Regions from separate parts of the Homo sapiens genome. Here regions 2 and 3 are each linked to region 1. The links come from fine-mapping of genetic effects on gene expression. A gene starts in region 1. Each other region holds a variant in brackets. All regions are shown on one strand. Distances are from middle to middle.

Evidence for each region. PIP is the estimated chance that this variant, and not a neighbour inherited with it, causes the effect.
Region 2: its variant is the best candidate, but not a certain one, in a credible set for the expression of RCE1 in cerebral cortex (GTEx, PIP 0.63).
Region 3: its variant is the best candidate, but not a certain one, in a credible set for the expression of RCE1 in blood mononuclear cells (TOPMed, PIP 0.71).

What each region holds. Positions count from the first base shown.
Region 1 is chr11:66,838,624-66,846,885 of GRCh38, forward strand. It overlaps RCE1 (Ras converting CAAX endopeptidase 1), which reads left to right and starts at 4,818. Exons shown (of 8, transcript NM_005133.3): 1 at 4,818-5,017; 2 at 5,136-5,238; 3 at 5,333-5,416; 4 at 5,663-5,741; 5 at 6,246-6,413; 6 at 6,543-6,614; 7 at 6,877-6,939; 8 at 7,237-7,929. The coding sequence starts at 4,833. The coding sequence ends at 7,472. TOP6BL (TOP6B like initiator of meiotic double strand breaks) reads left to right here. Exons shown (of 15, transcript NM_001302084.2): 14 at 4,226-4,446; 15 at 4,546-4,893. The coding sequence ends at 4,611. RefSeq lists silencers at 3,015-3,141, 4,359-4,498, 4,609-5,048 and an enhancer at 4,689-5,395.
Region 2 is chr11:66,650,008-66,658,007 of GRCh38, forward strand. It overlaps a transcript of RBM4 not described here. Among named protein-coding and RNA genes, the nearest start is that of RBM4, 15 kb to the left of the region's middle. The variant A/C (reference allele first, on the strand shown) is at 4,768.
Region 3 is chr11:66,710,715-66,718,976 of GRCh38, forward strand. SPTBN2 (spectrin beta, non-erythrocytic 2) reads right to left here. Exons shown (of 38, transcript NM_006946.4): 4 at 5,116-5,267; 5 at 4,508-4,681; 6 at 3,602-3,693; 7 at 3,377-3,457; 8 at 2,917-3,032; 9 at 203-315; 10 at 1-55. It also overlaps the pseudogene RN7SL12P. Among named protein-coding and RNA genes, the nearest start is that of SPTBN2, 14 kb to the right of the region's middle. The variant G/A (reference allele first, on the strand shown) is at 3,448.

The sequences.
Region 1 (8,262 bases):
ATGTTAGGACAGGACTAGAAATTTGTATTAAAGTCTGTGCAGTTACAGATAGCTGCACATGATGGGGTGGGGGTAGGTAATACGCAGATTCAGGGCCCTGAATTTTATTTTATTTTTATTTTTTTGAGACAGAGTCTCACCTCTGTCGCCCAGGCTGGAGTGCAGTGGCGCCATCTCGGCTCACTGCAAGCTCCGCCTCCCGGGTTCACACCATTCTCCTGCCTCAGCCTCCCGAGTAGCTGGGACCACAGGCGCCCGCCATCACGCCCGGCTAAATTTTTGTATTTTTAGTAGAGACGGGGTTTCACCGTGTTAGCCAGGATGGTCTCGATCTCCTGACCTTGTGATCCGCCTGCCTTGGCCTCCCAAAGTGCTGGGATTACAGGCGTGAGCCACCGCGCCCGGCCTGGCACCATGTCACTCTTAATGTGTGTTATGGGAAAGTGTCAGTGCGTGGGTTGTGATTGCAATTATACTGAAGTCTTTTCTCCATACATGTCTCCTGCAGTGCTTAAACAGCCTTCCCAGCCCACAGCAGCAGGGGTACAGCAGCTCTCACATTCAGTCACTAGCAGAGATGCCAGGTACTATTCTGAGCTTTTAAAATGTACTAATGCTCTTAGTTCTCAAAACTATCCTAGGAGCTATAGGTACTGTTATTAACTCTCATTTTGCATATGAGGAAATTGAGGCCCACAGATATCAATAAACTTACCCAAGGCTACACAGCCAGTAAATGACAGAGCAAGAATTCAAACCCAGGCAGCCTAGCTCTGCTGTCTCTGGAAGAGCCGAATTAGCAGGGATGCCCTCCTACAGATCCTGAGTCCTTCAGATAAAACAGTATCTGGGTCAAGGGAAGCTGGGGATCGTGACGTCAGCACCTATGCTTGGTTGGTAAATCCCTCTTTCTAGGGTCACAACCACAACACATACGCGTTTATGCTTAGGCCTAAGATGTGTCCCTGAAATCACTGTCAACTGAACCATGTTTTAAATGTTGTGGGGGCTGTTGCTACTGAAAAGAACCCTGCTGTGAACGCTTGTACAAAGCAAAGAATCTATTTTTATAAATTTAGATCTGGAGATTTTAAAAAATGCAAATATGATACATACAATTCAGTATTTATGCAGTCAGAAGAGACAAAGGAATAAGTATCTTCCCATACAAGGAAAAAAATTAACATTTAATTCAGTACCTTCTGTGGACCCTGGGGAGATGCTGGGGTCTTCCACAGCCTTATCTCATTTAGTCTTTACAGTGCCCTTCTGGGGGCAGGGGGAGGCATGGATCCTAACAAACTAGAGGACCCAGGCTCAGGTGAGGCAGAACGCTTAGCAGGAGGTAATGACTTTCAGTTTGCCGCCTCCAAAGCCCATGTTTTCTCCAGTGTGCAACATGAGCTTTAAAATCTAGGTGTTTATAATCTGGTGGAACCCCTGGAGGATGGCTTGGGCTGTTCTGTCCTACAGACCTGTGGCTCTCAGCATCCATTCTACGCCTCACATGGGCAGCCCTGCTGAAGAAAATCACCAAACTGTGTGTTGATGCCACCATCCATTGGTGGTCCACTCACTCAGGAGCCTTTGGTTTGTCAGTCCTTCCCCCTGCCTTTCTGGCCTTTGTCCCTCAGTGGCTACTCCATTCTTTAAAAAATCTACCCAGTCTCTGCCTCCTGCTTCATACTTACGGATCTCTTTTCTCAGTAAACTCACCCAACTTGCACCCTCCCACTGCAGAACCTCATCAGTGTGGGGACCCATTTCCTCCAGGCTCACAGTGGGATCGTCCCTTCTGCTTTCTTGGGACCTGCTTGCATCAGTTATCACTGCTGCACCTTCAGCCTTCCCCTGAGTTCCTTTCCCTCAGCAGGTCAAGCTCTCATTTCATCAGAAGAAAATCTCCCGTGACCTTGAACTTCCTCCACTTATCCTCAACCTCTCTCCCTCACATCTCAGCCAAGGATCTCAAAACCACAAGCTGCATGCACCCTGTCTCCCTTTCTTCCTCTCATTCTCTCCCTCACTTAGGGTACTTGCTTTTTCTGTGGCCTCTGAAACTTCTCTCCTCAGGGAAGGCCTCTTAATTACCAAATTTTGCATTTACCTTCATTGTATCTGAACTATGTGCAAAATTTGGCACTGTAAGGCTATGACTCGCCTGGTTTTTCCCTCCCTGGGCTTTTCTCTTCATCTACTTTCCTCTGGTCATGCCTAAATAGTGCTCATCCTGCTCTCCCACCCAGCTATCTTCCATCCCAACTGTTGACCACTGCCTCTGGGCTCAAGACTCTCAAATTGGTATGACCAGCCAAGGCCTCTGCTGAGTGCCAGCTGGGAGATTCATTTGCTCACTAGGCAGCTCCTCGTGGAGGTCCCATTGGTACCTCAGTTTCCTCTCTCCTGACTAAAGAGACTTTTAGTCTGTTTCATGATTAATCCAATTTATCACATCTGAAATCTTGGATTCATTCAAGAGGCCTCTCATTTTTTTTTTTTTTTTTTTTTTTTGAGACAGAGTCTCCCTCTGTTGCCCAGACTGGAGTGCAGTGGCGTGATCTCGGCTCACTGCAACCTCCCTGCCTCCCAAGTTCAAGTGATTCTCTTGCCTCAGCCTCTGAGTAGTTGGGATTACAGGCGCCCACCACCATGCCCAGCTAATTTTTGTATTTTTAGTAGAGACGGGGTTTCACCATGTTGGCCAAGCTGGTCTCAATCTCCTGACCTCGTGATCTGCCCGCCTCGGCCCCCCAAAGTGCTGGGATTACAGGCATGAGCCACCGCGCCCGGCCAAGAGGCCTCTCCCACATCCAGGCGCTCACAAAGGCCTATCACTTAGGCCTGATGAACACTTCTGATTCCTGGTGACGCCTCTATCTCCACTGTCTTTACTTGTTATTGGGCTCTTAAGGTCTTCCTGTCTCTAGTTTGATCTAAGCCACACCTTTGAAAGAACGATCTTTCTGAAGTACAAAATTACCAATATATTTCACCAGTGCTTAAAACTCTTTATTGGCTTCCTGTCTTCTACAGATGAAAATCTGTTTCTAGCCAGGCAAGGTGGTGTGTGCCTTTAGTCCCAGTTACTCGAGAGGATGAGGCCGGGAGTTCAAAGCTGCAGTGAGCTACAATCACGCCACTGCACTCCAGCCTAGGTGACAGGCGAGACCTCATCTTTAAAAAGTAAAAATTTACATAGGAAGTTGTTTTATGCCTTTGCATAAGGTTTGTGTTAACTTTCAGCAAGAAATTCCCTTTCTCTCCCTTGTCTGGCATATCACTCTTCATCCTTCAAAACCCAGCTCTGGGGCAGGAGTGGTGACTTATGCCTGTAATACCGTCACTTTGGGGAGCTGGGGCGGGAGGACAGCTTGAGACTAGCCTGGGCAACACGGTGAGACCCCTGTCTCTACAAGTAAAAAAAATTAGCCGGTGTGGTGGCATGCGCCTGTGGTTCCTGGTACTCTGGAAGCTGAAGCTGAGGCAGTAGGATCGCTTGAGCCCAGGAGGTCGAGGCTGCAGTGAGCCAGGACTGAGCCACTGCACTCCAGCCTGGGCAACAGAGCAAGACCTTGTCTCAAAAAAACAAAAGGTCAGCTCAGGTATCTCCTCATGGAAACCCTTCTTCACATCCAGAGGTGGTCGGCTTCCTTCTCTATTCTAACCCTGGGCTTTGTACACAGGTCTGCATCCCCTCCTAGCATCTGTGAGCTTCTCTCAGGGAAAAGCTCATTGATCTGCATCCCCAAGACCTGCTGGGGAAGAATCTATCCATCTAAACTCGCTTTAATTTGACAAATGAATCAGTTAAGAGTAGGAAAGCTGCCTATGGGCACTGCTCAATGCAACGTGAGCAACAAAGGGAGACAGAACTGAGGCCAGAAAGGTGAGGGGGGACAGAGGCTGGCAGGGAGGGGAGCTTGTCAGTGCAGACTCCAGGAAGAATCTATACAGAAAGTTACTGAGCGGCCTGAGTCCCCCAAGTGAGGGCTCGGGACAATCTCCCGCCTGGGTGAGAGAATAGGGAGACCCTGAAACGTCTCTGCAGCCTCGGGCTGCTCCAGAAGCGCCCACAGCTGCAGGGTTTTGGTGTGGATGGGACCTGCTGACAGGGATGCGGTGGGAAGAGCCCCTCGGCGCCCGTTCTCCCAGGCTTCCCCTTGGCCAAGGGTGCTCCTAGCACAGGGCCATGAAAGTAAGATGAAGAGGCTTGTTTTTCTCCTAGATACCAGCGGGCAAGCAGAAAACAAGAGGCTCAAGAGGGGCAGCCCCCGCATAGAGGAGATGCGAGCTCTGCGCTCTGCCAGGGCCCCGAGCCCGTCAGAGGCCGCCCCGCGCCGCCCGGAAGCCACCGCGGCCCCCCTCACTCCTAGAGGAAGGGAGCACCGCGAGGCTCACGGCAGGGCCCTGGCGCCGGGCAGGGCGAGCCTCGGAAGCCGCCTGGAGGTAACTGGGCGAGGGCCGCGCAGGGAAGGGCTCAGCAGGAGGTGCAGGCCACGGGCCGCTGCTGAGAGGTCCTCACCCCGGGCCCCCTTGTTCCCGCAGGACGTGCTGTGGCTGCAGGAGGTCTCCAACCTGTCAGAGTGGCTGAGTCCCAGCCCTGGGCCCTGAGCCGGGTCCCCTTCCGCAAGCGCCCACCGATCCGGAGGCTGCGGGCAGCCGTTATCCCGTGGTTTAATAAAGCTGCCGCGCGCTCACCAAGTCCTCTTCCGCGTCTGCTTCCGCGTCGGGCCCGGGCGGGGCGGGGCGGGGCGTGGAGCCGCGCCGCGGCCTGACGTCACCCACACCTCCCTGGGACTGCGTCACTGGTGCGCGCCGCGGGTCAGGGCGCAATGGCGGCGCTGGGCGGGGATGGGCTGCGACTGCTGTCGGTGTCGCGGCCGGAGCGGCCGCCCGAGTCGGCGGCGCTGGGCGGCCTGGGCCCCGGGCTGTGCTGCTGGGTGTCAGTGTTCTCCTGCCTCAGCCTCGCCTGCTCCTACGTGGGCAGCCTCTACGTCTGGAAGAGCGAACTGCCCAGGTGCGGGGGCTGCGCGCGACCGGAATCCGCGCCCTGCGGGCGGAGCTTGGGCGAGCCGGGGGCGGGTCCGTGCTCATGGGCAGCCGCGGGCCCCCTGAACTTACTGTCCCCTCCGTAGGGACCATCCCGCGGTCATCAAGCGACGCTTCACCAGCGTCCTGGTGGTGTCCAGTCTCTCACCCCTGTGCGTGCTGCTCTGGAGGGAACTCACAGGCATCCAGGTGCGAAGGAGGCGGGGCAAAGGGCAACGGCGGTGAGAGCTCAGGGGTCTTTAGGGGAGGAAGCAAAACTGATGCCCCCTTTCCTGTGGCTCAGCCAGGCACATCCCTGCTCACCCTGATGGGCTTCAGGCTGGAGGGCATTTTCCCAGCGGCGCTGCTGCCCCTGTTGCTGACCATGGTGAGTGCTCCTGCTGTATTTTTTCTTCTGGTCTTTGTTATCAGCCTGATGGGCAGTGCCGTGGACTCTTGTTTTTGGTTTTTGGTTGATGGGAGACAGGACTTTTGAGATGGCCCCAGGGTCCTCCGGTATGCATGGTCTGGAAATCGTGGCTGGAGAGGATTTCAAGCTTGGAGTCTCAGGGAGCATGGGCAAAGGTCTGGGCAAAAGCGGTGGGTTATGGTGAAAGTGTTTTCTTGCCCTCAGATTCTTTTCCTGGGCCCACTGATGCAGCTCTCTATGGATTGCCCTTGTGACCTGGCAGATGGGCTGAAGGTTGTCCTGGGTGAGTCTTAAAGGCTGAAGGGAAAAGTAGGCACAGGCAGTCCAGGACATTGGGGCAGGGAGTCAGCGGGCTCAGGGTGTGATCTGGACACGTGAAATGTCATCTCTCTGGGTGTGTTTTCTCATCAGTAAAATGGAAACATAGAGCTAGGTGGCCTCTAAGGGTTGATTGCCAACGTCCAAGGAGTTCCCTGGGAACCCCCAGCAGTATTTGGTGTGGATCAGAGAGCACTGTCCCCTGCTTCCCCAACCAGAGCTAGTCTTGCTTAAATTTTGGTGTCTCCAGAGTTTACTTCCAGGATGCCCTTGCCTCAGCTAATGCCTTCCATTCAGGTCATCTCAAGACATTGGGTTTATGTTGGGTCCACACCCCCGTCCTCAGCAGTATTGATGCCTAACCTGAGTTTGGCCAGGGTAAAGTTGTGGGAGAGGAGCCCTTGGAGCCTCTGGGGTCTCACTGTCTGACAGCCCGTCACTCACAGCTTGTCCTGAATTCCCTCTGCAGCCCCCCGCTCCTGGGCCCGCTGCCTCACAGACATGCGTTGGCTGCGGAACCAAGTGATCGCCCCGCTGACAGAGGAGCTGGTGTTCCGGGCCTGTATGCTGCCCATGTTAGCACCGTGCATGGGCCTGGGCCCTGCTGTGTTCACCTGCCCGCTCTTTTTTGGAGTTGGTGAGTCTGGCCAGATTAGTCCTGGTGTGTTTTCAGCATGAGAGCTCAGAAGGGGGCTTGAGGTGAGGGGCAGTCCTAGAAGGGAGGCTGGGAGGAATGACTGTGATGTGATTGTCACCTTTTTCCCAGCCCATTTTCACCATATTATTGAGCAGCTGCGTTTCCGCCAGAGCAGCGTGGGGAACATCTTCTTGTCTGCTGGTGAGTCCTGGCTAGCTGGCCTGGGTTAGGGTGTATGATGATGTCGCTAATGGCCACTCTGGAGAAGGAATTGGGAACTGAGGGCCACAGTATTGGAGAGGCCACTGACCGTGGGAAGTTGGGGTGCAGGACAGCTGTAGGTGGTGGGGCAGGCAGCTACTGCCCCGGGGGGAGGGGATGGTCGGTCTTTGGCTGATGGGTATGTAGTGTGGGGGCAGGAAGGGCGTGCAGGTGTGGTCACTCGTGGCCTCCCCGTCTCCAGCGTTCCAGTTCTCCTACACAGCTGTCTTCGGTGCCTACACTGCTTTCCTCTTCATCCGCACAGGTTGGTCCTCAGTCCCTCATGGGTCCCTGGGGGCCCACAGGAGCGGGTGGGAGAATGGGAATACTGTTTGTTCTAGGAACAAAAGTTCTTCTACTCCAGTCCTTGAGACAGGCTGAGCCAGAGCCCTCAGCCTGGTGAGGTCTGAGAGGTGGAAAGGAGCAGAGGCCGTGGTGTGTGGGTGGATGGCTGGGGTAGTGGGATCTTGATCTCCTGTTTCAGGGGATGAGGGTCACTAGCCCTGGAAGGGCCAGAGGAGGTGGTAGGGCTGCTCCCTGAGCTGCTGTCTCTTTTCCCCAGGACACCTGATTGGGCCGGTTCTCTGCCATTCCTTCTGCAATTACATGGGTTTCCCAGCTGTTTGCGCGGCCTTGGAGCACCCACAGAGGCGGCCCCTGCTGGCAGGCTATGCCCTGGGTGTGGGACTCTTCCTGCTTCTGCTCCAGCCCCTCACGGACCCCAAGCTCTACGGCAGCCTTCCCCTTTGTGTGCTTTTGGAGCGGGCAGGGGACTCAGAGGCTCCCCTGTGCTCCTGACCTATGCTCCTGGATACGCTATGAACTCTCACCGGCTCCCCAGCCCTCCCCACCAAGGGGTACTGCAGGGGAAGGGCTGGCTGGGGTCCCCGAGATCTCAGGAATTTTTGTAGGGGATTGAAGCCAGAGCTAGTTGCGTCCCAGGGACCAAGAGAAAGAAGCAGATATCCAAAGGGTGCAGCCCCTTTTGAAAGGGGTGTTTACGAGCAGCTGTGAGTGAGGGGACAAGGGGCAGGTCCCAGGAGCCACACACTCCCTTCCTCACTTTGGACTGCTGCTTCTCTTAGCTCCTCTGCCTCTGAAAAGCTGCTCGGGGTTTTTTATTTATAAAACCTCTCCCCACCCCCCACCCCCCAACTTCCTGGGTTTTCTCATTGTCTTTTTGCATCAGTACTTTGTATTGGGATATTAAAGAGATTTAACTTGGGTAACATGGCCTTGGGCCTTTGGGAATCGGTCTATTTGGGATCTTGTGTGAAGACTCTAGGCAGCTCTTGGGAGTGTGCCCACCACCTGTCCCAGCTACCTTGAACACTGACATCTGGGCGGTGCATCCAGGCGGGTAGTTCCCTGGAGTACAGGATGGGCTGGGAGCTCTGGTTGCTGGGAGCCTGTGGCTTCCTCCTTCCTGAACCATGCCCCAAAGTCCTAGTGTGGTTGGCTCTGAGACTGCAGGTACCAGGTGTGAGCCCAGCTCATCCTGGGGCCTGTGCCTTGGCTGACGGGTCAGGGAGTGGGAACCATGGCCCTGGCCCTGACCTCAGCGATGGAGCCTCCGACGTATCTCCTC
Region 2 (8,000 bases), 190 kb before region 1:
AATTAGGTTACCATGTGGCGAATACAAAGATGAATAGGGCATTGTGCCTGTCCTCACTGTGCCTCCACAAGCTGCTGCTTGTCTGGGCCTTGGGTGTACAAATAACTGGTATGTCCTTGGAAGTCAGTTCGGGGTGGGAATGGTCATACTATTTTGTATTGATGACATGTGCCTCGGCCTGATTCTGCATGGGTCAAAGGACCTGTGAGGGCAGTTTTCAGGGTGATCTTGGAATTTAACTTGATGTTAACCCTGTTAACTTTGCCTTTAAAGTTTTCCAGCCAGGCGTGGTGGCTCAACGCCTGTAATCCCAGCACTTTGGGAGGCCAAGGCAGGCAGATCACCTGAGGTCGGGAGTTCAAGACCAGCCTGTCAAACATGGGGAAACCCCATCTCTACTAAAAACACAAAAAATTAGCCGGGCATGGTGGTGGGCACCTGTAATCCCATCTGCTTGGGAGGCTGAGGCAGAAGAATTGCTTGAAGCTGGGAGGAGGAGGTTGCAGTGAGCTGAGATTGCGCCATTGAACTCCAGCCTGGGCAACGAGAGTGAAAGTCTGTCTTAATAATAATAGGCCAGGCGCGGTGGCCCACGCCTGTATTCCCAGCGCTTTGGGAGGCCGAGGTGGGCGGATCACGAGGTCAGGAGATCAAGACCATCCTGGCTAACAAGGTGAAACTCCATCTCTACTAAAAATATAAAAAGTTAGCCGGGCGTGGTGGTGGGCACCTGTAGTCCCAGCTACTTGGGAGGCTGAGGCAGGAGAATGGCATGAACCCGGGAGGTGGAGCTTGCAGTGAGCTGAGATTGCGCCACTGCACTCCAGCCGGGGCAACAGAGCTAGACTCCGTCTCAAAATAAGTAAAATAATAATAATAAATTTAAAAATGAGCCGGTCATGCTACTCAGGAGGCTGAGATGGGAGGATTGCTTGATGCCAGGGGCGGATGTTGCAGTGAGCAGAGATGGCATCACTGGACTCCATCCTGGGTGACAGTGGGATCCTGTCTCAAAAGTTTCCCAGGCATCCTCAAAATTGGGGTTGTTTTGGGTGAATGCTAAATTAAACCAGGCTCCTTACCCTAGAGCTACACATCAGTACTAAAGTAGACTCGGGGGGGGATGGAGTAGTGAGAGTGAGATCATTGATCATTGGCACTAGTATTAAGTGCTGTTTCAAATTACCCAGGTCAGTTTGCTCTCAGTACTTGTGTGTTCTTACACATGATCTCATTCTGAGGTAAAGGAAATTCCCAGGATGATGGTGATGGGAAGTCCCAGGACTCCCTTTCTGCAGTGGATTTGGAGAACAGTAGTCCAGGTTGTAGCAAGAGAAAGTACTTTTTTTTTTTTTTTTGAGGCGGAGTCTTGCTCTGTCACCCAGGTTGGAGTGCAGTGGCACTATCTCGGCTCACTGCATGCTCCACCTCCCGGGTTCACGCCATTCTCCTGCCTCACCATCCAGAGTAACTGGGACTACAGGCGCCCGCCACCACACCTGGCTAATTTTTTTGTATTTTTAGTAGAGACAGGGTTTCACCGTGTTAGCCAGGATGGTCTCGATCTCCTGACCTCTTGATCCGCCTGCCTCGGCCTCCCAAAGTGCTGGGATTACAGGCGTGAGCCACCATGCCCCGCCAACAGGAGGATTTTTTTAGTCCGTTTGAGGTGCTGTAACAAAAGACCGTAAGACTGGATGGCTTATACACAACAGAATTTTATTTCTCACAGTTTCGGAGGCTGGGAAAGCTGAGATCAAGGCCGTGGCAGACGTGGTGTCTGGATTCTGTCTTGAGTTTGCAAGGCAGGAAGGGTGAGGGATTTCTCTGGAGTTTCTTTTATATAAGGGCACAAATCCCATTGATGAGGGCTCTGTTCTATGGCATAATCACCTCTCAAAAGTGTACCTAATACTTTCACTATGGGGATTCAGATTTTAACATGAATTTTGGGGGGACATAAACACTCAAAACTATAGCAAGATTCAACTGTGTGTGATATTTACCTAGTTATGATCGTAGCAGCTCTGAATATTAAAATAATAATCTGATGAAGTGGCGATGGGTGGGTAATACGTATAAGAGCAAAACTCATAGAAATGAAAAAATTTTTTTTTTTTGGTCACCCAGGCTGGAGCGCAGTGGTGCAGTCTCGGCTCACTGCAACCTCTGCCTCCCGGGTTCACACCATTCTCCTGCCTCAGCCTCCCAAGTAGCTGGGACTACAGGCACCCTCCACCACGCCCGGCTAATTTTTTTGTATTTTTAGTAGAGACGGGGTTTCACCGTGTTAACCAGGATGGTCTCGATCTCCTGACCTCTTGATCCGCCTGCCTTGGCCTCCCAAAGCGCTGGGATTACAGGCGTGAGCCACCACACCTGGCTGAAATGAGGAAATTTTTAAAAGTGGCAAATGGATTATGAACATCTTATTCAGAAATAAAGGTAAAAAACAGCTAAAATGGCAAAAGCAGTTGGGTTCTGGGGAAGGTGGGGCCAGGGGACTTTTTGAAGCCTTAATATTTGCTTTGTTAAACCATGTTCTTGCATTATTAAGTTGTGTCATGCTAAGAACTCTATTTTGTCAAGCCAGATTATGATGGCTTAACATGAGTGAACCTTCCAGCTTCTCATGAGATGCAAATCTGACAGGAATAGGGACTCGTGTTACTTTATGGCAGGTAAATAGCACCCTTCAGATACAAAATTGGGTTGGTTTCGGGCGTGGTGGCGCATGTCGTAGTCTCAGCTACTACAGAGGCTGAGGTGCAAAGATTGAGCACAGGAGTTCCAAGGCCAGCCTGGCCAACCTAGTGAGACCTGACCTGTCTGAAACATACAACCCCACCCGCACCCCCACCAAAACAGGGATGGTGCTTCCTGTCCCTTAAGGAGACAAGACACCAAAGGAGAAAGTACGTAGCTAGTGATGAGTGAATTGAGCATTGTATTACTGCTCTCATTTTTGTCTTAAGTTGTCACAACTAACAGGGAGGCTGAGTACTCTGTCCACTGGGAGCTGGTGGTTCCATTGAGGGTTGTGTGTGCCTGCTGGTTTGAGTTCCTCTGTCCAACATCAGAATTGTTTGTATTCAGATATGCAACAAGATGGGACTTCTCAGTTTCACAACGTAAGGAAGATTGACACCAAACTGAGTTTGGGGCTTCCTTTGTACAGTTGACCATTGAACAACAAGGGTTTGAACTGTGCAGGTTCACTAATACATGGATTTTCTTCTGCCTCTGCCGCCCCTGAGACAGCCAGACCAACCCCTCCTCCTACTTTTCCTCAGCCTACTCAACATGAATACTATCAGGATGAACACCTTTATGATGATTCACTTCTACTTAATGATTTTTTTTTTTTTTTTTGAGAGGGAGTCTTGCTTTGTCACCCAGGCTGGAGTGCAGTGATGCGATCTCGGCTCACTGCAACCTCTGCTTCTTGGGTCCAAGCAAATCTCCTGTCTCAGCCTTCCGAGTAGCTGGGACTATAGGCACATGCCACCACGCCCAGCTTACTTTTGTATTTTTAGTAGAGACAGGGTTTCACCATATTGGTGAGGCTGTTCTCGAACTCTTGACCTCAGGTGATCCACCTGCCTTGGCCTCCCAAAGTGTTGGGATTACAGGTGTGACCCACCGCGCCCAACCTTTTCTTTAGCTTTTATTGTAAGAATACAGTATACATATAACACACAAAATATGTTAATTGACATATGACCTGTAAGGCTTCCAGTCAACAGCAGGCTACTAAGTTTTGGGAAGTCAAAAATTATACATGGGTTTTCTTTTTTCTCTTTTTTTTTTTCTTTTTTTTTTCTGAGACAGAGTCCTGCTCTGTCGCCCAGGATAGGGACTCACACTTTGAATATATGCCTCAATTAAAAAGGCAAAAAATAAGCAGGGCACAATGGCATGCACCTGTAGTCTCAGGTACTTGGAAGGCCGAGGTGCAAGGATCGCTTGAGCAGCCCAGGAGTTCAAGTCCAGCATGGACAACAGCAAGACCCTCTCTAAAAATATTACTTATTTTAGAGACAAGGTCTTGCTCTGTCATCCAGGCTAGAGTGCCATGGTGTTATCTATCTCACTGCAGCCGTAGCTCGCAGGCCCAAATGATCCTCCCGTCTCAGCCTCCCAAGTACTTAGGACTACAGGCATATGCCACCAAATCCTACTATTAGAAGAATTTTATTTTTGGCCGGGCGTGGTGGCTCACACCTGTAATCCCAGCACTTTGGGAGGCTGAGGCGGGCGGATCATGAGGTCAGGAAATCGAGACCATCCTGGCTAACATGGTGAAACCCTGTCTCTACTAAAAATACAAAAAAAAAAATTAGCTGGGCGTGGTGGCGGGCGCCTGTAGTCCCAGCTATTCGGGAGGCTGAGACAGGAGAATGGCGTGAACCCGGGAGGCAGAGCTTGCAGCGAGTCGAGATAGTGCCACTGCAGTCCGGCCTGGGTGACAGAGTGAGACTCCATCTCAAAAAAAAAATTTTTTTTATTTTTGAGACAAGGTCTCACTTTGTCCTCTAGGCTGGAGTGCTGTGGTGCAAACATGTCTGACTGCAATCTTGATCTCCCAGGCTGAAGCTATCCTCTCGCCTCAGCCTCCTGGGTAGCTGGGACTACAGGCACGCACCACCACGCCCAGCTCAGTTTTGATTAATTTTGTTTTTTTTTTTTTTTTAGAGGCAAGGTTTTCCCATTTTGCCCAGCCTAGTCTTGAACTCCTGCGCTTAAGTGATCATCCTGCCTCAGCCT[A/C]CCAAAGTGGTGGGATTACAGGTGTGAGCCACTGTGCCCAGCCTACAGATAATTTCTTTTTATTTTTTGAGATGGAGTCTCCCTACGTCGCCCAGGCTGGAGTCCAGTGGCGCCATTTCGGCTCACTACAACGTCCGCCTCCCAGGTTCAAGTGATTCTTCTCCCTCAGCCTCCTGAGTAGCTAGGATTACAGGCGCATACCACCACGCCCAGCTAAATTTTTTTTTTGAGATGGAGTTTTGCTCTTGTTGCCCAGGCTGGAGTGCAGTGGCATGATCTCGGCTCACTGCAACCTCTGCCTCCTAGGTTCAAGCGATTCTCCTGCCTCAGCATCCTCAGTAGCTGGGATTACAGGCATGCACCACCACGCCTGGCTAATTTTTGTATTTTTAGTAGGGATGGTGTTTCACCATGTTGGCCCTGCTGGTTTCGAACTCCTGACTTCAGGTGATCCACCCGCTTTGGCCTCCCAAAGTGTTGAGATTACAGGCATGAGCCACTGCACTCGGCACTTCTTTTCTTTTTTTTTTTTTGAGACAGGGTCTCACTCTGTCACCCAGACTGCAGTGCAGTGGGGTGATCTTGGCTCACTGCAACCTCCACCTCCCAGTCTCAGTTGGTCCTCCTACCCCAGCCTCCCGAGTAGCTGAGACTACAGGCATGCCACTACATCCCACTCGTATTTCTTGTAGATACAGGGTTTCGCTATGTTGCCTACGGTGCTCTTGAACTCCTGGGCTCAAGCGATTCTCACCTCGGCCTCCCAAAGTGCTGGGATTATAGGAATGAGCCATTGCACCCGGCCTGGGCCTCTTTTAAAAAAGTGAGATTTGAGCAATGAGTTGAATTAGATGTAAGTTAGCAACAGGTATCTGGGGGAAAAGTACGCCAGGTAGAGAGAATATCTTGAGCAAGGGTCTTAAGGTGGGAGTGTTCTAACAGTAAGGAGGCCAGTGGCAAAAGAGTGAGTGGGAGGAGAGAGGAGCAGAAGAGGTCAGGTAGTTAGCAGATCTAGTAGTTAATCTTCTAGGGCCTTTCTGGCCTTCACTCTGAGTCAACTAGTCTTGTAGGTTTTTAAGCAGTGTCATAATGTGATTACTTTTTTAAAAAATCAGCTTTTCTGAGTTTTTTTTTTAAACACCCTTTCAACCCAGTTTTTCCTGACTCTGGGAAGAACCAGGAAGAGACGGCCCTGAAGTATTCTTTTTTTTTTTAGATGGAGTTTTGCTTTTGTTGCCCAGGCTGGAGTGCAATGGTGCAATCTCAGCTCACCACAACCTCCGCCTCGCGGGTTCGAGTGATTCTCCTTCCTCAGCCTCCTGAGTAGCTGGGATTACAGGTGCCCGCCACCATGCCCGGCTAATTTTGTATTTTTTTTTTTAGGCGGAGTCTCGCTCTGTCACCCAGGCTGGAGTGCAGTGGCACAATCTCAGCTCACTGCAAGCTCTACCTCCTGGGTTCACGCCATTCTCCCACCTCAGCCTCTGAAGTAGCTGGGACTACAGGCACCTGCCACCACGCCTGGCTAATTTTGTTTTTGTATTTTTAGTAGAGACAGGGTTTCACTGTGTTGGCCAGGATGGTCTCGATCTCATGACCTTGTGATCCACCCGCCTCGGCCTCCCAAAGTGCTGGGATTACAGGTGTGAGCCACCGTGCCTGGCCTAATTTTCTATTTTTTTAGTAGAGACGGGGATTCTCCATGTCAGTCAGACTGGTCTCGAACTCCCAGCCTCAGTTGATCTGCTCACCTTGGCCTCCCAAAATGCTGAGGTTACAGGCATGAGCCACTATGCCCGGCCTGAAGTATTATTTTCAAACAATAAAATATACCAATTTTGAAAACAATTTGACACATTGTGACAATGTACTTTTTTGGGGGGCCTTTTGTTTTGTTTTTTAAAAAGATGGTGTCTCACTCTATTGCCCAGGCTGGAGTGCAGTGACATGATCTCGGTTCACTGCAATCTCCACCTCCCGGGTTCAAGCGATTTTTGTGCCTCAGCCTTTTGAGTAACTGGGATTATAGATGCATGCCACCATGTCCAGCTAATTTTTATATTTTTAGCAGAGACGGAGTTTCACCATGTTGGCCAGGCTGGTCTTGAACTCCTGACCTTAGGTGATCCACCACCTTGGCCGCCCAAAGTGCTGGGATTATAGGCACAGTCGTGAGCCACCATGCCCAGTTTGACAATGTACTGGTAATTTTGGTAACTGATGGTTACAATCTTGTTCCCATTGTTGCAATCAAAATACAGAACATTTTTGTCAGCCAAAAAGCCCTTGTGCCCCTTTGTAGTTAATCCTCAGCCCCTGATCAATTTTTTAGTCTTTTTTTTTTTTTTTTTTTTTTTTTAGGTGCGGTCTTGCTCTGTTGCCTAGGCTGGAGTACAGTGGTATGAGTATGGCTCAATGCAGCCTCAACCTTCTGAGCTGAAGCGGTCTTCCCATCTCAACCTTCCAAGTAGCTGGAACTACAGAGGTATGCACCATTGCACCTGGCTAATTTATTTTTTATTTTTATCTTTTGGTAGAGATGGGGTCTCCCTATGTTGCCCAGGCTGGTTAGGAACTCCTGGCTCAAGCTATACTCTTGTCTCAGCCTTCCAGACTACTAAGATTAGGCCGGGCGCGGTGGCTCACACCTGTAATCCCGGCACTTTGGGAGGCCGAGGGGGTGGATCACTTGAGGTCAGGAGCTCGAGAGCAGCCTGGCCGACATGATGAAACCCCGTCTCTACTAAAAATGTAAAATATTAGCCAGTTGTCGTGGTGCGCACCTGTAGTCCCAGCTACTTGGGAGGCTGAGGCAGAAGAATCACTTGAACCCGGGAGGTGGAGGGTGCAGTGAGATGAGATAGCGCCACTGCACTCTAGCCTGGGCGACAGAGCAAGATTCCATCTCAAAAAAAAAAAAAAAAAAAAAAAAAATTATAGGCATGAGCCACCTCGCCTGCCCCCTCCCCCACCTTTTTTTTGAGACAGGGTCTTCCTATGTCACCCAGGCTGGAGTGCCGTGTTCAACCTCCACCTCCTCCCGGGCTCAAGCAATTCTCTCACCTCAGCCTCCCGAGTAGCTGGGACCACTGGCGCATGCCAGCATGCCCAACTAATTTCTGTATTTTGTAGTTGTGGTTTTGCCATGTTGCCCAGGCTGGTCTTGAACTCCTGAGCTCTAGCCATTTGCCTGCCTCAGCCTCCCAAAGTGCTGGGATTACAGGCGTGAGCCA
Region 3 (8,262 bases), 130 kb before region 1:
CCAGGGACTCGTATTTCTCCACCAGGCGCTCTGCCTCCATGGCATGGTCCAGCACCTGGGAGGCAGAAGACAGGGACGTGACAGTCCCAGCCACAGGGTCCCTGGCCCAGTCCTGCAGCTCCACCCTGCCCTTGCACTAGGGCAGTAAGACCCCTCAGCCGGGCCTCCTCTGGCCTTTATGCCTACTGCCCATGGACAGTACCTTGCCAATTCTCTTGCCTTCCACGGCCAGGGCCTTCATCTTGGAGAAGTAATGGTAGTAAGTAGCCACATAGGTAATGATTGACTTCTCATCTGGCTGGTCCACATTCACGTCTGCAAGAGAGGACCATTTGGGTCAGGCCTCCCAGAAGTTCATCCATAACTTGCATCACTTACCCCAAACCCTGGGCCTGCCCAGTCCTCCAAGGCTGACATCTCTCCATCTCCTTTTAGAGCAAAATGACAACTTACCCATTCAAATGAAAAGGGCACCAAAAAGCTCATCTTTTTTTCCCCTTCTCCTGGAAACAAGAAGGGCCCTCCAAGCAGAGCACAAACCCCAGAAGCACAAGGAAGCTTTTACCCAGAGTTCCCCGTGGAGACCAAAATCAGTTGTTTGGGGAAGAAAAGCAAGAAAAGAAACAGCATTGCTATGTGGGGATGGATCATGGACTTTTAGGCTAGAATAATGTTTAAGAAGTCAATGGATTGAGGGGCAGTGGGACGGAAGGTATGAACTAAGCCTCCTGAACCTAGGATGCTCAGATCGATGGGCCCTGTGATCCCTGCAGCTCAGTGGGGACAGAGGCCAGCTCTCAGCACCATCTCCAGGTGTGATCACGCCGTTTCTAACCTCAATCCTAAAGCTCAGCTGTGGGCCCAAGGAGGGGAGTGTCTTTCAAGCCGAATTGGCTTCCAGCGCACAACTGAGGCTGACCATAACTTGAAATCTGTGGGTTCTTTTAAATAGGCCAGATTTTATCCTAAAGGTAAGACTATGAGACCAGAAGCCTCTTGCCTATTTCTGGAAATACATGGGCAGGCAGGAGCCACTGAAGTCATCTCGGAAAGTTACAGAATGCTTAGCTTTATTTCCAGGTTCTGAATTACAGCCATGCTACCCAGAGGCTCTCCAAGGAGCACTGCATGAAGCCTATGTCTGTTGCTAGCTCGCTGACACTTGTCATTCTGCAGTAAAAAGGCCCAGGTGATAGGGCTACAGGTAGAATGGAAAACAGGGAGAAAATGGCCAAGACCAGTGAACATCCACCCAGTGAACTTAAGGAGCACCTCCAGCAGGCGAGCCTTTCTCTCCTCCCTGTTCTGGTTGCACCAAGATTGGTCTCCACTTTCCCAGAGGCAGCGGAGGAAACAGGCTCTGGAGCCAGGCTGCCTGAACGCCAATCTCAGCTCCATCTGCCGGAGGACCTGGGCAAGTTGCTTACCCATTATAGGCCCCCATCTTCTCTTCCATAAACTGAGGATAACAACAGTACTGATTTCAAAGGGGTGTTGTGAAGATTAAAACACATCAAGTGCAGAACCAGGTATCAAATAAGAGCCTAATCGCAGTCAGGCGCGGGGGCTCACACCTGTTATCACAGCGCATTGGGAGGCCGAGGTGGGCGGACCACGAGGTCAGGAGTTAGAGACCAGCCTGACCAACATGGTGAAACCCTGTCTCTACTAAAAATACAAAAATTAGCCGGGCGTGGTGGGATGCGCCTGTAATCTCAGCTACTCAAGAGGCTGAGGCAGGAGAATTGCTTGAACCCAGGAGGCGGAGGTTGCAGTGAGCCGAGATCGCGCCATTGCACTCCAGTCTGGGCAACAGAGTGAGACTCCGTCTCAAAAAAAAAAAAAAGAGCCCAGTGGCTGTTACTGATCTCATCGATCTCATCGGCATTATGACCAGAACCACAGGAACCAATCAGCAAGGTCAGCTGACTACAGGCCAGTTCTGGGTGAGAGTGGAAGGTCATGCAGCTTAATTTTTTTTCTTAAAAATTTGTTTTAAAAAAATAGAGATGGGTCTCGCTGTTGCCCAAGCTGGAGTACTGTGGCTATTGACAGGTGTGATCCCACTACTGATCAGTGTGGGAGTTTTGACCTGCTCCATTCTGACCTGGACTGGTTCAGTCCTCCTTAGGTAACCTGCTGGTCCCCTGCTCCCAGGAGGTCACCAGTGCTGAATTTAGTGTAGATATCCAATCAGCATAACCCACTGCAGCCTAGAACTCCTGGGCTCAAGTGATCCTCTCGCCTCAGCCTCACTAGCAGCTAGGACTATAGGCAGGTACCACCGTGGCCAGCAACATGTAGCTTAATTTAGAATCCTAGAATTTCAGAAGAGCCCTTAGAGACCAATTCTCTCTTTTAAGACATGAGGAAACTGAGCCACAGAGAGGCTAGCCACTGGCTGTATGTCACAGAGCTCCTCTGTGCTCTGCCTGGGACACAACCCACAGTCCAGGGCTCTTTCTGTCACTGGGCTGCCTTTCTTCCTACCTACAGTCTTTTGTTAAAAAAAAAAAAAACCTGAGAAATGATTGTCACACCATAAAATTCAACCTTTCAATGTATATAATTCAGTGGTTTTCAGTGTAAAGATATATATTTTTTTTGGGGGGGAGGGGTAGTCATGGGGTCTCACTATGTTGCCCAGGCTGGTACCAAACTCCTAGGCTCAAGTGATCCTCCTGCCTTGGCCTCCCAAAGTGCTGGGTGTGAGCAACCACGTGTTTTTCAGTATATTTACAAGGTTGTGTAACCATCACCACTTTCTAATTCCAGAACATTCTCTTCCCCCACCAAAGAAGCCCCTGTATCAGTTGGTGGTTACTCCATGTCTTCCCCCTCCGCAGCCCCTGGCAACCACTGGTCCACCTCCTGTCTCTACCCTACCACCTCTTTTTCACATAGCTCTGGCCCCACCTTCGGGATCCAGCAGCTTGGTAAGTCCCAGTTCCTTTTCAGCCAGATTGAATGCATTCTGCAGATTATAGTGTGCATTACACTTCTTCAGAGACTCAAAATCCAGCAGGTCTGGCCTGGGTGGGGAGGCAAGACAGAAGGGATCAGAAACATGTGAGATCTCGAAGAGGAAGAGGAAACCCACACCAATCTTTATCCCTAAGTCACCGACCCAATTTTGTCCAGAAGTAGGCATCCCAAACCCACACTGCTGCTCACAGCCCCTCCCCACACCACCTCCCCTGCTTCCCATCACAAGTGCTCTGCGCAGCCCTGCACCCCCATGTTCTGGTTCTGCTCCGAGTGCTATTCCTTCCGTCTGACTGCTGTGCAGCTCATCTCATCTCTGTCTCCACATGTGCACCCCAGGTCATTAGCCGACCCAGCAGCTCTGCTGCGTTTGCTAACCCCATCTTCTCACCGGTGTTTATGCACGATGGCGTTGAAAGCTAGTCCATCTCTCCAGCTGGTGGTGAAGTTGTGTACATTGAC[G/A]TTGGGATAACTATAAACAGAGATTCAGAAAATGGTGAGTAGGGCTGAGCTCTGTTCTATGACTCCAGGGCAGTCACCAGCTCATGGTTCCTGGAGCCCAGCACAGCCTGGGGGTCACTGACCCTCCAGTGCCACACGCCCAGGGTGTCCTCACCCTGCAGTCTTCATCTGGCACCACAGAAGCAGGGCATCCTTGGCTGACTTCTTCTCCTTGTTGTCTTCTGTCTCCACACTGATGTCTTGGATCTAGGAAGGAAGCAAGCAGGGCCCTCAGTCCCTGGACAGGAACTCCTGGTGTTATCAGAGATGCTCAGATAAATGGCAGGAAACTGCTCTTTAGACTGTGGTAATGGGGTGGACAGGCATAGCCTGAGGTCCTTTCAACCTAGGCCAGGGACCACAAAACACTGGGTGCAAGGGATTTGAGGCAGCAGATTAGGGTAGGATGCTGAAGAATGGGTGTGTCTGAGTGGAGGGTGCTGGTCCCTCCAGGTGGGGAACTGCAGGCAGAAGAGTGAACATTTTCTGAGAGCTGGCTCTCCAAGGTCTCTAAAAGCTGGCTCTCCAAGGTGAAGCCGACAGAACCCGGGAAGGAAGGGGGTGATCAGGAACGCTGTGATGGCATGAGGACACTGGGGCATGAGGAGGAGGAGGGTGACTGTTCCATTGGGGGAGGCAGGCAGAGTTTATGGCAGGGAATTGGTGCCAGTGACCAGACCCTCTAGAAGTTCCCAAATCCCTGTGGTGAAGGACCAGTTGGTAAAACTTCCAGTCTCCTGTGGACCAACCTGTGGTCCTGGTCCCATTGCACACGACCAACACACAGACCAGAACACAGGGAATTTGCCACAGGGGTGTGACATTCACCCAAGCTGGTTTCTACCCTGCTGAAAGAGGGGAGTCCACTGATCTGGTGCTTGGATAGCGCCGCCATGGCAGCTGCTACATAAGGTTCTAGATCCTCCATCTTTGTGTTTGTTGTGTCATGGGCCAGCAGGAACGGCTTGCGGTGCAGAGCCAGGGCAGGAACCACACCCTGTGTGACAGTGTGCTGGGGTACCTGGAATCGAAGGATGATGGTCCAGACCAGCCCAAGGGTCAGTCGGTGGTTTCCGTCCACAATGTCATGGGAGCCCATGTTTTCCAAGTGCACTTTCTGCTCCTTGAGGAACTGCAGTGCCTTGTCCACGTTCTCCAGGCAGTGGATCCGCATGCGGCCCTTTGTAGGCTTTGGCTGTGGAGGGACGGGGGCAAAATGGCACGGGACTGTGGGCTTCCACCTTCTTCCCCAGCCTTCACAGGGCCCAGCTTTGCACACCTTCCCCATGACCTACCTCAGGAACACAGACAGGCACAGCCCCAGGGCTGGAGCCAAAGCTGAGCTTACAGATGAGGCTTGGGCAGATTAAGATTCCCAAGGGAATTAATTGCACCCAGAGTAGGTGGGAAAAGAAATGTTTTCAATGGGGCCACTGTTCCTGTCTCCATGAAGCAATGCTCCTATGTAATCTAAGTGGCAAAGGCACTTGAAATGAACCCATCCTCTGAGCAGAGGGAGCCACTGCTTCCCGCCCTGTGCCGTCACTCTCTCTGAGGGCTGTTCTTCCAGCTGGTCCCCTTGGACACTTTTCTAAGGCCCCCCCACTTCCCTTCATGACCACAGCTCACCAGTATCTCTCCCGAGAGCACCTCGAGGAGCCTCAGCAGGTTGCGTCCGTCCCGGAGGTCGCTGTACAGGTCCCCCACCCGGCACGTGACCCGGGCCAGGTGCGAGTTTACCCACTTGGTGAAGGTTTTCTTCTGCACAGCTTCTCGTTCATCTGTGGTGGCAACATGGGTTTATTTCTGTCCCTCGAGTTCAGTATGCCTGCTTCTAAACACCAGTTGGCAGGGGTGGGGGATGGAGAAGCCTGAGAGATGGGAAGCGGGGTCCTCTAAGGAGGAGGAAGGGAAGGAAGATGACCGGGAGGAAAGCCCGTAACTTGCAATGAGCTCATAAGCAAGGTAAAGAAGAAAGATGAAAGACAGAAAATAGGCGAAGGTTGGGTGTGGTGGCTCATGCCTGTAATCCCAGCACTTTGGGAAGCCAAGGCGGGCGGATCACAAGGTCAGGAGATCGAGACCATCCTGGCTAACACGGTGAAACCCCGTCTCTACTAAAATTACAAAAAATTAGCCGGGCATAGTGGCGGGCGCCTGTAGTCCCAGCTACTCGGGAGGCTGAGGCAGACTGACGTGAACCTGGGAGGGGGAGCTTGCAGGGAGCCGAGATTGTGCCACTGCACTCCAGCCTGGGCGACAGAGCAAGACTCCGTCTCAAAAAAAAAAAAGAAAAGAAAAGAAAAGAAAATAGGCTTTGAGAAGAAAGGATGAAGACCTTTCATCCTCAGAAACCATGGGACATGCAGGGAGGGGCTGGGATGGGGCAGTCGTGGAAGCAGTGGAATGCTGGTCAAGTGACTTCATTCATCAGAGCCCCAATGTCTCATCTGTAAAATGGGAACATCACTTTCTACTTCAACAGGTCATTGTGTTGATTAAATGAGATAAGGTATATAAAACAACTAGTTGGTGCCTGGCACAAAATGGCTCCTTGGTGAGCTGCTGTTATAAAGTGGTGTGATCTGGCCCGAAGGAGAGCAAGAGCTGCCCAGGCCGGTGGGAGGTATGGCTGTTCTCTTTTGGTTGCAGACAAAGGAGAAGGTGTGGGCTAAAATTATTGCAGCGGCTCTTCCAAGCGGTCATTAGGACTTGATGGTATAGAGGCTGCAGGCCTCCTGAGTCAGCTTACTGTCCTTGGATAACTTAAAGAAAAGGCAGGCTCCTCTGCTTCTGGGGGTTGGGGACAGTACATTCAGCTGGCTGCAAGGGGATCCAGTTCCAGGACATAAACACCCCATTGCTTAGAAGAACAAGATGTTGAGAGTTGGGAACTGGGAAAACAGTGAGGCCAGGAAACATGGGGGAAAAAAAGCCAGGCAGAGTTAGGTACCAATCTCAAAAAAAAGTTAGGCAATGCCCTGCTGCCCAGCCCACAGGGGAGGGGAGCTACTGAAGAGGGGAAGTAAATACTAGGTTCCGTAGGAAAATAAAAATTAAGAACGTTCTAAGTGACAAAGTGAAAGCATCAGAAACTGCTCTGGTGATGAGGATTTCTGCCACTTTCCCACAGAGAGCCCTGTGCAAGGACCCAACCCAAGTGGCTGGGGTCTGAAGAGTCACTTTTGCTTCCGTCTCAGCACCAGCATCTCAGAAACCGGAAAGACTCATCCCTTAATCTCACATTCCTAAGCACCTCACCCATAAGACACAGCAACACACCCACGTCGCTCCGTGTCTTTCACCTCCAGCCACTATACTGGCACCAAACCTGGGGTCCTAATAACATGGGACGGCCCCATGCTCCCCAGCACCCATGAAACCAAGGTGCCTTGGGGCCTCCCGGCAGGTCTACAGGCCCCATCTGAGCCAGGAGGAGCGTGGGTCACAGGCCATTGCTGGATCCAGGGGCACTGCCCTACTGCTGGGCACCCTGGGGTGAGGCCATTTTGGCACACAGTCAGAAGACACAGAATTAGTGGCAACTAGGAGGAAAATGGGCAAAGCCAAGCACCAGAAACCAAGTGTCACGTCACAAGACGCCCACAGCATCCCTAGATCCTTACACACACACACACAACAGTGATTCCCAAAAACACACCTAAGCACTTGTGCCAGAGTGAACACACACCTGCGCAGACATCTACCTGGGCCTGTTTGCACAGATCCTCTCCTTCGAGACACTCCCTTTGCTTCCACACACACTGCCCCCGTGTACACATTCAGACACACGCTCAGAGGCCTGGAAAACACAATCTCCAGGTCCCTGGGCCTGGCTCACCCCTCCGCCTCCCCTAACTGTCCTGGCCAGCGCTCCACCGCCAGATCCGGATCCACCTCAGAGGCACTGCTGGCGCCTCCCCAGGTGCTGGCACCCCCACGCCCTCCATGGCTAGTTGCCTTTGCTCCATGCAGCACCCCAAGGCCCGGCAGTCACACCCACCCATGCCATCATACACGGTCCCTGCCAGCAGGTCCAAGCCTTTCCCCATTCCGTTGACATCTGTGTATTTTCCGGCCTCTTGTAATTATCCCCTCTAAGCTGCATCACGTTGTCTCCCAACACAAACACTGGAGTCACACTGTGTCCTGTGCCAGGTCCTCAGCTCCGGCCACTCTCCCCACACCCAGGTCCCTCTCGCCCAGGCACAGTCGTCCCCACAGGGGGCCCCCGGGCCTCACCTTGCAGCTGTTTGAAGCGTCCTTCCAGCACGCTGGCATACTGAGCAGGGTTGATGAAAGCAGCTGGTGAAAGCAGGAGGCCCCCGGGGTTGTGGGCCCCTTCCACAGCCTCATAGTAAAACTCGCTGGCCTCATGCAGGCCGTTCCCGTGCACCCTGCTCACTCCGTTCCCATTCATGCTGCCAGCTGCTAGTTACAGAGCCCAGGGCCCAGAGTCCATGCTCCCCGCTGGCAGGGGGCCAGTTTCTGTTCCCCAGTGGAACCTCAGGCTGGAGTCCAGCGTCAGGGGATTCAAGAATGGTGGGAATTTCAAGGAGTGGCAAAAAGAGTTACGGGGTGTCCCGAACTCCTGAGACAGAGAGTGGGGGCACGCCTGGCTGCGGTGAGAGGAGACAGGCGGCTCCAGACAAACAGGTTGGACAGTGTTGGGGAGGGGAGAGAGGCGGAGTGTGGCCGGCGGGGGCAGGGCCAGGCCCTGCGGGGCGGCGGAGGAGGGCACTGCCAGCGCCTTCAAGACCCGCCCATCAGGCCCCA